2 separate regions of the Homo sapiens genome follow, and region 2 is linked to region 1. Evidence: fine-mapped expression QTL. A gene starts in region 1. The other region holds a variant in brackets. All regions are shown on one strand. Distances are between the middles of the regions. Region 1 holds the start of FAM161A (FAM161 centrosomal protein A). Region 2 overlaps FAM161A (FAM161 centrosomal protein A).

Evidence for each region. PIP is the estimated chance that this variant, and not a neighbour inherited with it, causes the effect. A credible set is the group of variants that fine-mapping cannot tell apart.
Region 2: its variant is the best candidate, but not a certain one, in a credible set for the expression of FAM161A in whole blood (INTERVAL, PIP 0.68).

Annotation. Positions count from the first base shown.
Region 1 is chr2:61,851,673-61,857,055 of GRCh38, reverse strand. FAM161A (FAM161 centrosomal protein A) reads left to right here and starts at 2,996. Exons shown (of 7, transcript NM_001201543.2): 1 at 2,996-3,197. The coding sequence starts at 3,015. It also overlaps the pseudogene RPL31P30. RefSeq lists enhancers at 1,803-1,852, 2,593-2,822, 3,063-3,222, 3,383-3,512.
Region 2 is chr2:61,830,181-61,835,563 of GRCh38, reverse strand. The region is part of intron 5 of FAM161A (FAM161 centrosomal protein A); the gene reads left to right. Among named protein-coding and RNA genes, the nearest start is that of FAM161A, 21 kb to the left of the region's middle. The variant A/G (reference allele first, on the strand shown) is at 2,756.

The sequences.
Region 1 (5,383 bases):
TCATCCACACTGACTATCTAGATTTTTGAAAGTGGTAACAGGTATACAGGTAACCACAGTATTGAGCTTGTTTGGTGAATTTTCATCCTTGTTATGTTTTCTGAACAATCGCACATGTACATGGTGTGGGACATTCCTTATTCCTTTGGCCCTGATAGCCTTGTTAAGCCTGGTATCAATGCACACATCTGGAGTGCCCATCTTCATGGCAAATTTCTGAATCTCTTTGAATGCCCACAGAGCATGCTTCTTGAAGCCCACTCCATGGATGTGAGCTAGTGACCCAAGTGTGTTCTTGGGTCACTACCTTGTTGATGGCAGAACAGCTCATCTTCTTGCCACCCTTCTTTGCAGGAGCCATTCTGCCAGGCCCAAGATGGAAAGGAAGAACATGAGGGACGGTGGGAGAAAGAAGGCCTAAACTTTTAAAAAGTGGCTGCACCATTTTACATTTAAGACATTTTGACACATTGTATTTTTGTTGTTATTTGACTCTCTAGATAATTTCTGCCATGACTTTTTCTGTAATGCACAAATTGTTTTTTGAAGAGTTTTAAATTTCCCAACTAAAAAGGCTTTTCTAGTTATTTTTCTTTTATAATGTCTAACTTGGCTGGGCGTGGTGGCTCATATCTGTAATCCCAGTGCTTTGGGAGGCCAAAGCAGGCGGATCACCTGAGGTCAGGATTTTAAGACCAGCCTGGTCAACATGGTGAAACCCTGCCCTCTACTAAAAATACAACATTTGCTAGGCGTGTTGGCAGGCACCTGTAGTCCCAGCTATTCGGGAGGTTGAGGCAGGAGAATCGCTTGAACCTGGGAGGCGGAAGTTGCAGTGAGCCGAGATCACGTCACTGCACTCCAGCCTGGGTGACAAGGAGACTCCATCTTAAAAAAAAAAAAATTGTTTTGTTAATTACAATAAATTATGTCAAAAACAAAGATAATTTCTTAAAACTCTTCACTTTCTTTTATGTTCCTTGCATCTACTGTATCTGTATGGTGGAAATACTATATAATGGTGTGCTACTAGACATCTTTTCTCAAATTCTTATTAAGTGATGTCACATTGGTGGCTTGAAATTGGCTATGATGGGAATATTGACATCATGGAAATCAGCAAAAGCTAAACATTGGACATTTAAACTTAAGAAACGGATGTGGAAAATATTAATGCAGAGTAAACTTAAAAGTTTGTGTTATCTGTAGCCTTTACATTGTGACTTGCAGAAAAAATTAAGAAAAATTATTCCAGTGTTAGAAAATGATTATCTATTTCAGCAAAGAAGTTGCTCATAACATTGACAAGTGAAATTCTGACATAGATCTTGGATATGTCACTCTCATCTTAATCACAAATAAAAACAAAAATATTAACCAACATTCATGTTGGAACTAGGTTGTTAAACAATTGCAACCATAAGTTGGCCACAAATACAGGAGTACAGCATAAACCAACGAAAGCATTCTGAGAGAAGCAATTGTCTATGAGGAATTTACAGTAAAGAGAATAGGATATTTCATTATTTATAATTCATCTGCTATAATTCCTTATCAATACTTTTGTTGGTGGTGGTGGTGGTGAGACGGAGTCTTGCTTTATTGCCCAGGCTGGAGTGCAGTGGCGCCATCCCGGCTCACTGCAACCTCCGCCTCCCGGGAGTGCGCCTGTAATCCCAGCTACTCCGGAGGCTGAGGCAGTTTTGTAGCCACAAAACTGGCTGCCGTGTCTGACTGGAAATTGCTCCCCTGGAAACTTGGCCACACCTGGCGGTGCATATCTCATGGTTCTGGCTCTGGCTTCTGCTTAGAACCCAGTCAGCATCTGTTCCAGCATGGGAAGCAACTGTTCAGCTAAAACCAAGAGCAGCCTGAAGGAAGTGGGGACGTAGGAGACTTTGTAGGTGCTCACACCCAGACAGGAGAACAAAGGTTTGGTAAGGGCTCAGACCTTAGAGACGGGTTCTCGACGATGTGCAGCGCATAACGAGGAAAATACTGACCGGAGGGGGCCGGTCGTAGGGCTGGGGAGCAGGAGGAGGGCAAAGGATAGAGAGGGGGTAGATAGGGAGTAGATAGGGGGCGGCAGCCTCGGCCTCAGTAAGCAGGGGCTCAGGGAGCAGATGTCTGAGACTGCACCACGTCCGCTATTTTGAGGTTTGGCTTCTCTTACTGCCACGTGGTGCAGAGGGAAGGCGCCATTTGATGCGTCCAAATCCCGAGTGGGAAGAGAAGATACGGATGAGGGAGATGGATGTGTCTGTGGTGACTCTTGGGCACTTGTGCCGTTCAATCCTGTCACTCTCAAGCTGAAGAACCCAAAGCAAACGCCAGGTTTACAATACCTGCACTATCACTCATTAGTGGGAGGGTCAGGCGCCACCCAACTCTGGGCTTTTATTGGTCATGTCAAGAAAAAAGCGAGAGGGACAACTGGGAGCCTCCTTCTGATTGGTGGATTCCTGCTAGCCCTCAAGTCAATCAGAGTAGAATGTACCGCCCTCCTTCCCACTCTGGCCCCCGCGGGAGACATGTTAGGTAGCGGGACGCCAACCTTGTCACTCTTCTGAGACCGCCACCCAGTAACACGCCCTGCTTTCCTCCGCCGCCGCCGTCTCCTCCATCAACTGTCTCCTTCTAACATGTTATTGCAGTTAATAAAAAAGCGTTCTTTTCTTCACAAAAGCAGTTGTTTCATTGTATAATGTGAGAAGTCTGCGTTCAGGCGGTTAGACGCAAAGGAGTGGAATAAGTGCCCTGTTCAGCCTGCCAACCTTCGGAACCAGCCAACAGACTCGGTACTGACTGCCATGATCCAGTAAGCACCCGACTCGGGTCTCTGGCAGCCTGAGTGGATTTTGCGTGACTTTTGGTCCCTGGCGGCTCCTGTAGCGTCCCCAGTTACGGCGCCCATAGCAACCGGCTCCCTAGCTAGGCGCCCCCGGGTTGCCAGGGGCCGCACCAGCTTTCCCGTCCCGGGCCAGCGCAGGCGCTCAGGCCTCGGAGGCGGGGCGATGGCCACCTCCCACCGAGTGGCGAAGCTGGTGGCCTCCAGTCTCCAGACCCCGGTAAATCCCATCACTGGAGCGCGGGTCGCCCAGTACGAACGCGAAGACCCCTTAAAGGCCCTGGCGGCAGCGGAGGCGATCTTGGAGGACGAAGAGGAGGAGAAAGTGGCTCAGCCCGCTGGGGCATCGGTAATACTGGGGCGGGACTTGGGCTGGGACCTCGCATGGGCTGGGTGCAGGCTGAGGGCTGTCCGGTTCCCCGCCCAGCTGAGGGCAGGCTGGTAAACGCGGGTCCCTGTGCACATAGTCCCTACTTGGTGGTCCTGGCCCAGCCCCTTCTCTACGCTCACGAAAATTACTCTAAATCGAGGCGTTGAAAAGTGTTTTAATTTTCACCAGTCTGTTGTAAAAGCTTCCTAGACAACATTTATGTTACTCTGCTTCTGGCAAGTGCAAAGTATAGAATTTTACTCTCTACTCTCCAGCATCTCGGGAATGGATATATAGAGATATATCTGGCTATATATAGTAATTTGAGGAAAACTGTTCTGTCAGGTGTGTTTCGTTATTACCTTAAGATCTTGGTTATAAGCGGATCTCAACATAGTGCTCTAAAGATGTGTGTTTAAAACCATCACGTGTTCACTGGCTAAATCAGACACGGATACAGATAAGCAAATCACTGAGGTTTCAGTGTTTCCTAAACAGCTCTTTAGGGTACAGCGAGACGGCCTTTTCACTGATCAGTTTTCATTGTTAAATCTGTTGTGGACACCAGTCCAGCAGGTAGAGGGCAGGGTCTGCCATCTGCTCAATTCACTTAAAAGATGGGAATCTTGGCCGGGCGCGGTGGCTCGTGCCTATAATCCCAGCACTTTGGGAGGCCGAGGTGGGCGGGTTACGAGGTCAGGAGTTCGAGACCAGCCTGACCAACATGGTGAAACCCCGTCTGTACTAAAAATACAAAATTTAGCCGGGCGTGGTGGTGCGCCCCTGTAATCCTAGTTACTCGGAAGGCTGAGGCAGGAGAATCGCTTGAACTTGGGAGGTGAGGGTTGCAGTGAGCTGAGATCTCAGACCCAGTCTCAAAAAAAAAAAAAAAAAAAAAAGATGGGAATCTTGAATTTAAACTAGCAATCTGCAGATAGAAAAAATTTCCTAATACCATGTGTCCAAAGCTTCTCAGACACCAAACTTATGATTGAGGACTAACTGAAATCACTGGATATTTTGGAATTCTGATCTCTTTAATCTACAGTAAAATTGTTAATGAGAACATCTTTAGCAACACCTTTTGTGACCAATCTTTCACCAACAGACAAACAACTTGAAGTTATCCAGAGTAAGGCAGACTGAGACCCTGAACATGAACCAGGATCAGAGTGCTAGGACCGATTTTGTTCATGATGAAGCTACCCCTCAACACAATTTTCAGTAGGCAACAAGGCAACGTGATGGAGAAAAAGGATTGAAGAGTTCTGTATTAGGATCCATTCCCTGCCACTTCCTAGGTGGTGTTAGGACATAATTTCCTTAAACCTCAGTTTCCTTATCTGTAAAATAACTATAATAATTGTCTCTTTTTTCCCATCTCAGCTCTATGAGAACCAAATGAAAGAATGTGTGTCTCCTCTAAAGAGCAATCTATGTAAATGAGTTGCCAGTGGGAGTGTCATTTGTGTGCCTTCCCAAAGATTAAACTCAACTTTGGCTTGCTGTGGTAAAGGAGTCAGTCACTTCTAAGTTGCAGATATGCTTCCACAGTGCCCTGTTAAACTGCAAATTTGTGTTAGAAACTGTTATTACCTTAGGAGGGATCAGTTTATACAATAATCTAGTTTGGAAAGGACAGGATCCTACAAAAAAAAAAAGGAAGCCAAGTCTTAAGAGTTTGGTACTGTTCTGAGACCACCACACATGAGGGATCCAAAAGTAAAGCTGGGTAAGCTGCCACAGTGGGCCTGATAGCCAGGGGGCACAGGCTGGGGGAAGAGGCATTAAGAAGGCAGGAAGAGTGCAGGAAATAGGCTCTGCTTTCTTCACTGGTTGGCTTGGGTCTCCATCTTGATTTTTAAAGGTTAATTTGCCTTAACCTTATTATCTATAAAATGTAGTAAAGTCAAATATTATACCTAACCCACAAGATTGATTTGAGAACCACCCATCACAATAGGCCTCTTTCAGCTCTTTGGTTTTGCCAAAGCCAGACCACTCATCCCACCCCACACTGCCCCCCAACCCCCCAACCCCTGCACCATCCCTATACACCCTCCCAGCTCTGGCATACACACGCACCCCCCTTGCAGTGCCCATATTGGGCACTGATGCCTGTTCCTTGAATCTAGCCTTAGTCAGAGATGTTGGTCCACATATCC
Region 2 (5,383 bases), 21 kb after region 1:
GGCTTCATGATATCACTTGGAGGTCTTTGAAGAATTAAAAAAATGAAACAAAATGGCTAATTGAATCAGAGTTATTTCTGCTAGTTTTTTTTTTTAAGTGAGTCTGTAATTCAATCTTCTCTGCAATTACTAAAAGAACTTCCTTTCTATACGAAAAACAAACTAGTCTTACGGACAGTGGACCCTGATTTTACTAAGTTTATGCCCGGTTTTACAACCTTTCCCTTAAGGGAAATTTGTCAATTTTAGGTCATCTTCTCCTTTGTCCCATAGGGGAGGCATCTGTATGGGTGACATGGCTTAACAATTGACAAAATCACTGGAGGTTACAGGTTCTAAATTGTGAATTTGAAGCTGTTATAATTGGACAATAGACAGTTGGAGAATTTACCTGTAACAGATGAGCATAGTTACAGAACTGTACTTGCCAGTGACTCATTGAGGACAGTGGACATGTATTGTGGGTGAATCTGCACATTACAGTCTCTCAAAGTTACGTAATCTTTTTGCTCACTGATCTAGATATAATTTTATATAATGCCTTTCATTTTAAGTGATGGATTTTTTTAACATCTTTATTTCAACTTTAGGGGGAAAAATCATTTTAAGCTGTTCTACATTATAATCATAAAGTGATTGGCTTTTGGCTCAAAGACATTATCTCCAGCTCTGAACTGCAAGTTTTTTGTTTTTGCTCTTTACACTGCTTCTGGGTTTTTCTTATTTATTTATTTATTTATTTTTTCAACTTTTATTTTAAATTCAAGGAGTATATGCGCAGGTTTGTTACAAGGGTATGCCAGGCGCCGTGGCTCACACCTGTAATCCCAGCCAGCATTTTGGGAGGCCGAAGCAGGTGGATCACCTAAGGTCAGTGGTTCGAGACCAGCCTGGCCAACATGGTGAAACCTTGTCTCTACTAAAAATACAAAAATTAGCCGGGCATGGTTTTGCGTGCCTGTAGTCCCAACTACTTGGGAGGCTGAGGCAGGAGAATTGCTTGAACTTGGGAGGCGGAGGTTGTAGTGAGCTGAGATTGCGTCATTGCACTCCAGCCTGAGCAACAAGACCAAAATTCTATCTCAAAAAAAAAAAAAAGGGTATATTGTGTGAGCTGGGGTTTGGGGTATGATTGAACTCATCACCCAGGTAATGAGCATAGTACCCAATAGGTAGGTTTTCAACCCTTGCCCTCCTCCCTCCACTCTCCCTCTTATATTCTCCAGTGTCTGTTGTTCTCATCTTTATTTCCATGTGTACCCAGTGTTTAGTTCCCACTTGTAAGTGAGAACATATGATGTTTGGTTTTCCGTTTCTGCTTTAGTTTGCTTAGGATAATGGCTTCCAGCTGTATCCATATTGTTGCAAAGGACATGATTTCATTCTTTTTTATGGCTGTGTAGTATTCCATGGTGTATGTGTAACATATTTTCTGTATCCAATCCACTGCTGATGGGCTGGGTTGTTACCATGTCTTTGCTGTTGTGAATAGCATCAGCACTTGTTATTGTCTGTCTGATTTTTTTAGAAAAATATTTTTAGAGACAGGGTTTCACTCTGTTGCCCAGGCCAGTGCAGTAGTACAATCATAGCTCACTGGAACCTTGAACTCCTGGGCTCAGATGATCCCCAGTATGAGCATCCCAAGTAGCTGAGACAAAGGCCCACACCATCATGCCCAGCTAATTTTATTTTTTGTAGAGACTGGGTCTCGCTGTATGGCCCAGGCTGGTCGTGAACTCCTGGCCTCAAGTGATCCTCCCACCTCCACCTCCCAAGTTGATGGGATTACAGGCATGAGCCACTGCACCTAGCTTTTGTCTGTCTTTTTGTTATAGTCTTCCTAGTGGGTACAAAGTGGTATTTTATTATTCAGTAACATTCTTTCAACTGTTCTTTTATCTTTTTCATTACAGACTCTATCTACTAGCTTATTGATATGGTAGGTGAGGATTTAGCTGTTTTAACACGTCCTCTCGGAAGCACACTTACCTACCCTTTCAACGTCTTTCCATCTTTCTGTTTCCCAGTCAGCTCTATCACAGTTAGATCGGAATTCAGTGTTATAACTTAGTAAACAATGTTAGCAGCTGAGCCCTATATTATTATCATCACATTTCCTTTTTTTTTTTTTTTTTGAGACAGAGTCTCACTCTGTCACCCAGGCTGGAGTACAGTGTCACAATCTCAGCTCACTGCAACCTCTGCCTCCTGGGTTCAAGCCATTCTCCTGCCTCAGCCTCCTGAGTAGCTGGGATTACAGGTGCGCGCCACCGTGCCTAGCTAATTTTTTTGTATTTTTTAGTAGAGACGAGGTTTCACCATGTTGGTCAGGCTGGTCTCGAACTCCTGACCTGATGATCCGTCTGCATTGGCCTCCCAAAGTGCTGGGATTACAGGCGTGAACCACCATGCCTGGCCCATCACATTTCCTTTAAAAAAATTTTTTCTTGTGTTAATAATTACTAATTTTGTTTGGTCCTCCCCCCACCTTCCCTCATTCCCCACCAATGTATGTATCATTATTATTCTTAGGCTTTTCTGTTAGCTCTCAAAAATCCCCCTCAAACAGTTAAACACATTCGTAATTCATCAGTTCCTTTCCTCCCCTGGAGCCCACAAGTGTCCTGCTCCACTTTGGAATGGTTTCTCTCTAGGCCAGCAGTCCTCAACCTTTTTGGCGCTAGAGACTGGTTTTATGGAAGACCATTTTTCCACAGACCAGGGTTGCGTGGGGTGGGGTGGATGGATCGGG[A/G]AATGGATCATTTCAGGATGAAACTGTTCCACCTCACATCATCAGGCGTTAGATTCTCATAAGGAGCATGCAACCTAGATCCCTGGCATGAGCACTTCACGATAGGGGTCACCCTCCTATGAAAATCTAACGCTGTAGGAGGCAGGGCTCAGGCCATAATGCTCGCCCTCCCACTGCTCACTTCCTGCTGTGCAGCCTGGTTCCTAACAGGCCACAGACCCGTACCTAGTTCGTGGTAGGGACCCCTGCTCTAGGCCTCTGGCATAAACGACATCTTAGGACTTTTTCACTGTTATACTGGGGAGTAGTTAGATATTAACCTGGATTTATCTACATTTCTTGTATTTCTTTTAAAATCACTGTTATTTTATTCTAGTTCTGGAAGATTTCCTCAAATTTATCTTCCAAATCTGCATTTTTTGCTTACCTAATGAAAAATGACATAATTTCCAGAATGCTTCCCATTTATTAAATATTCCTTTGGTATTTTTCATGGGTGCAGTACGTTTTTTTTTGTTGTTGTTGGTTTTTTGTTGTTGTTGTTGTTGGTTTTTTTTTGTGTGTGTGTGACAGGGTCTTACTCTGTCCCAGGCTGGAGTGCAGTGGCATGATCTCGGCTCACTGCAACTTTAACCCCTTGGGCTCAGGCAATCTTCCCACCTCAGCCTCCCAAGTAGTTAGGACTACAGGCACAAGCTACCATGCCAGGCTAATTTTTGTATTTTTTGTAAAGACAGGGGTGTTACTGTGTTGTCCATGCTGGTCTTAAGCTCCTGGGCTCAAGAAATCCTCCTTTCTCGGCCTTCCAAAGTGTCGGGATTCCAAGTGTGAGCCACCACACCCAGCCTGTCTTTTATATCTCTGAGCATACTGGTGATATTGTCTCTGTTTCCTTCAAGTTCCTTTTTCTCTTTTTTAGCCTCTTGTCTATCATATTAGAAGCTTTCCTCAGATTATCTTTGGTTGTCTGTTTGCATTTAAGAGGGAGACTGCACAAAGCTATTTGGAAGCTGGTTTATAATGTTTTTTGAGAGGTTGCTGAAAGACAAGCACTCCACTAAGCACTTTATATGCATTGTCTTAACTGACCTTTACACTGCTCCTGTGAGGTTCTTATTTCACAGATGAGGGACATCTTGAGGCTTAGATGATACAACCAGAAGAAGGGGAACCAGGATTCAAACCCAGATCTGACTGTCTTCATGTGATTCTTTTATCTATCATATTGTTTTCCTGCCCCCTTCTCAACAAATGCTTTTTGAATATCAGAAAATCCCTTGAGACCCTTAAAGTCAGATAGAAACAAGACAGACAAATGTAGTCATTCAAGACACACAATTGCAGCAATTACAGATGTGTGTTGAGACAAAATTGTGAATATGATTGTTTTGGAGGTTGGGGGAATGGTCAGATTGATATGTTATTTTTTTCTGTTAACCTCAATTCCAGGGAGCAGGTACATAACCTGGGAATACTAATATTTGTGTTAGTGACATGCGAGGCTTGTTCCAACAGGTCTAGAAAAAAAAAAGGAAAGTAAATAAATGCTAAATTAAAGGAATCATTATGGGTGATACTATAATACAAGAAAGAAAGTATGAAGTATTATTTGGGAAGACCAATATTGAACACATATGCAGCAATGATTTATTATAGTGCTGTTTGTCTAAGAAATATCTTTTTTTTTTTTTTTTTTTGAGAAGGCGTCTCACTCTGTCACCCAGGCTGGAGTGCAGTGGCTCGATCTCAGCTCACTGGAACCTCCGCCTCCCGGGTTCAAGTGATTCTCCTGCCTTAGCCTCCTGAGTATCTGTGATTACAGGCGCGTGCCACCATGCCTGGCTAATTTTTTTTGTATTTTTAGTCAAGACGAAGTTTCATCATGTTGGTCAGGCTGGTCTCGAACTCCTGACCTTGTGATCTGCCCACCTCAGCCTCTCAAAGTTCCGGGATTACAGATGTGAACCACCACATCCAGCCAGAAATATCTTTATATTAGAAAAATTAGGCCAGTGACTCACCCTGTAATCCCAACACTTTGGGAAACTGAGGGGGGGAGGATCATTTGAGGCCAAGAGTTTGAGACCAGTGTCTACTGTTCTCATTTTTTTTTTTTTTTTTTTTTGAGACAGGGTCTTACTCTGTCACCCAGGCTGGAGTGCAGTGGCGTGATCTCGGCTCACTGCAACCTCTGCCTCCTGGGTTCAAGTGATTCTCCTGCCTCAGTCTCCTGAGTAGCTGGGATTACAGGTGCACACCACCATGCCCGGCTAATTTTTTTTGTATTTTTAGTAGAGACGGGATTTCACCATGTTGGCCGGGCTGGTCCTGAACTCCTGACCTCAAGTGATCCACCTGCCTCGGCCTCCCAAAGTACTGGGATTACAGGAGTGAGCCACCGTGCCTGGCCTACTGTTCTCATCTTCATATCTGTGTGTACCCAGTTCCTCCCCATTCAGCTGGTCATTGAGAGACCTGTCAAATTTTCTTCCTAAATAATTTTTGGATCTGCCCTTCACCATCCTTGGTGGTGAAATGCCAGGTGGAACCTTTATTTCCTATCTGAATCATAATAGTTTGATTGATTTTTCTGCCTTGCTCTTTGCAGAACCATTCATTATACCTTCG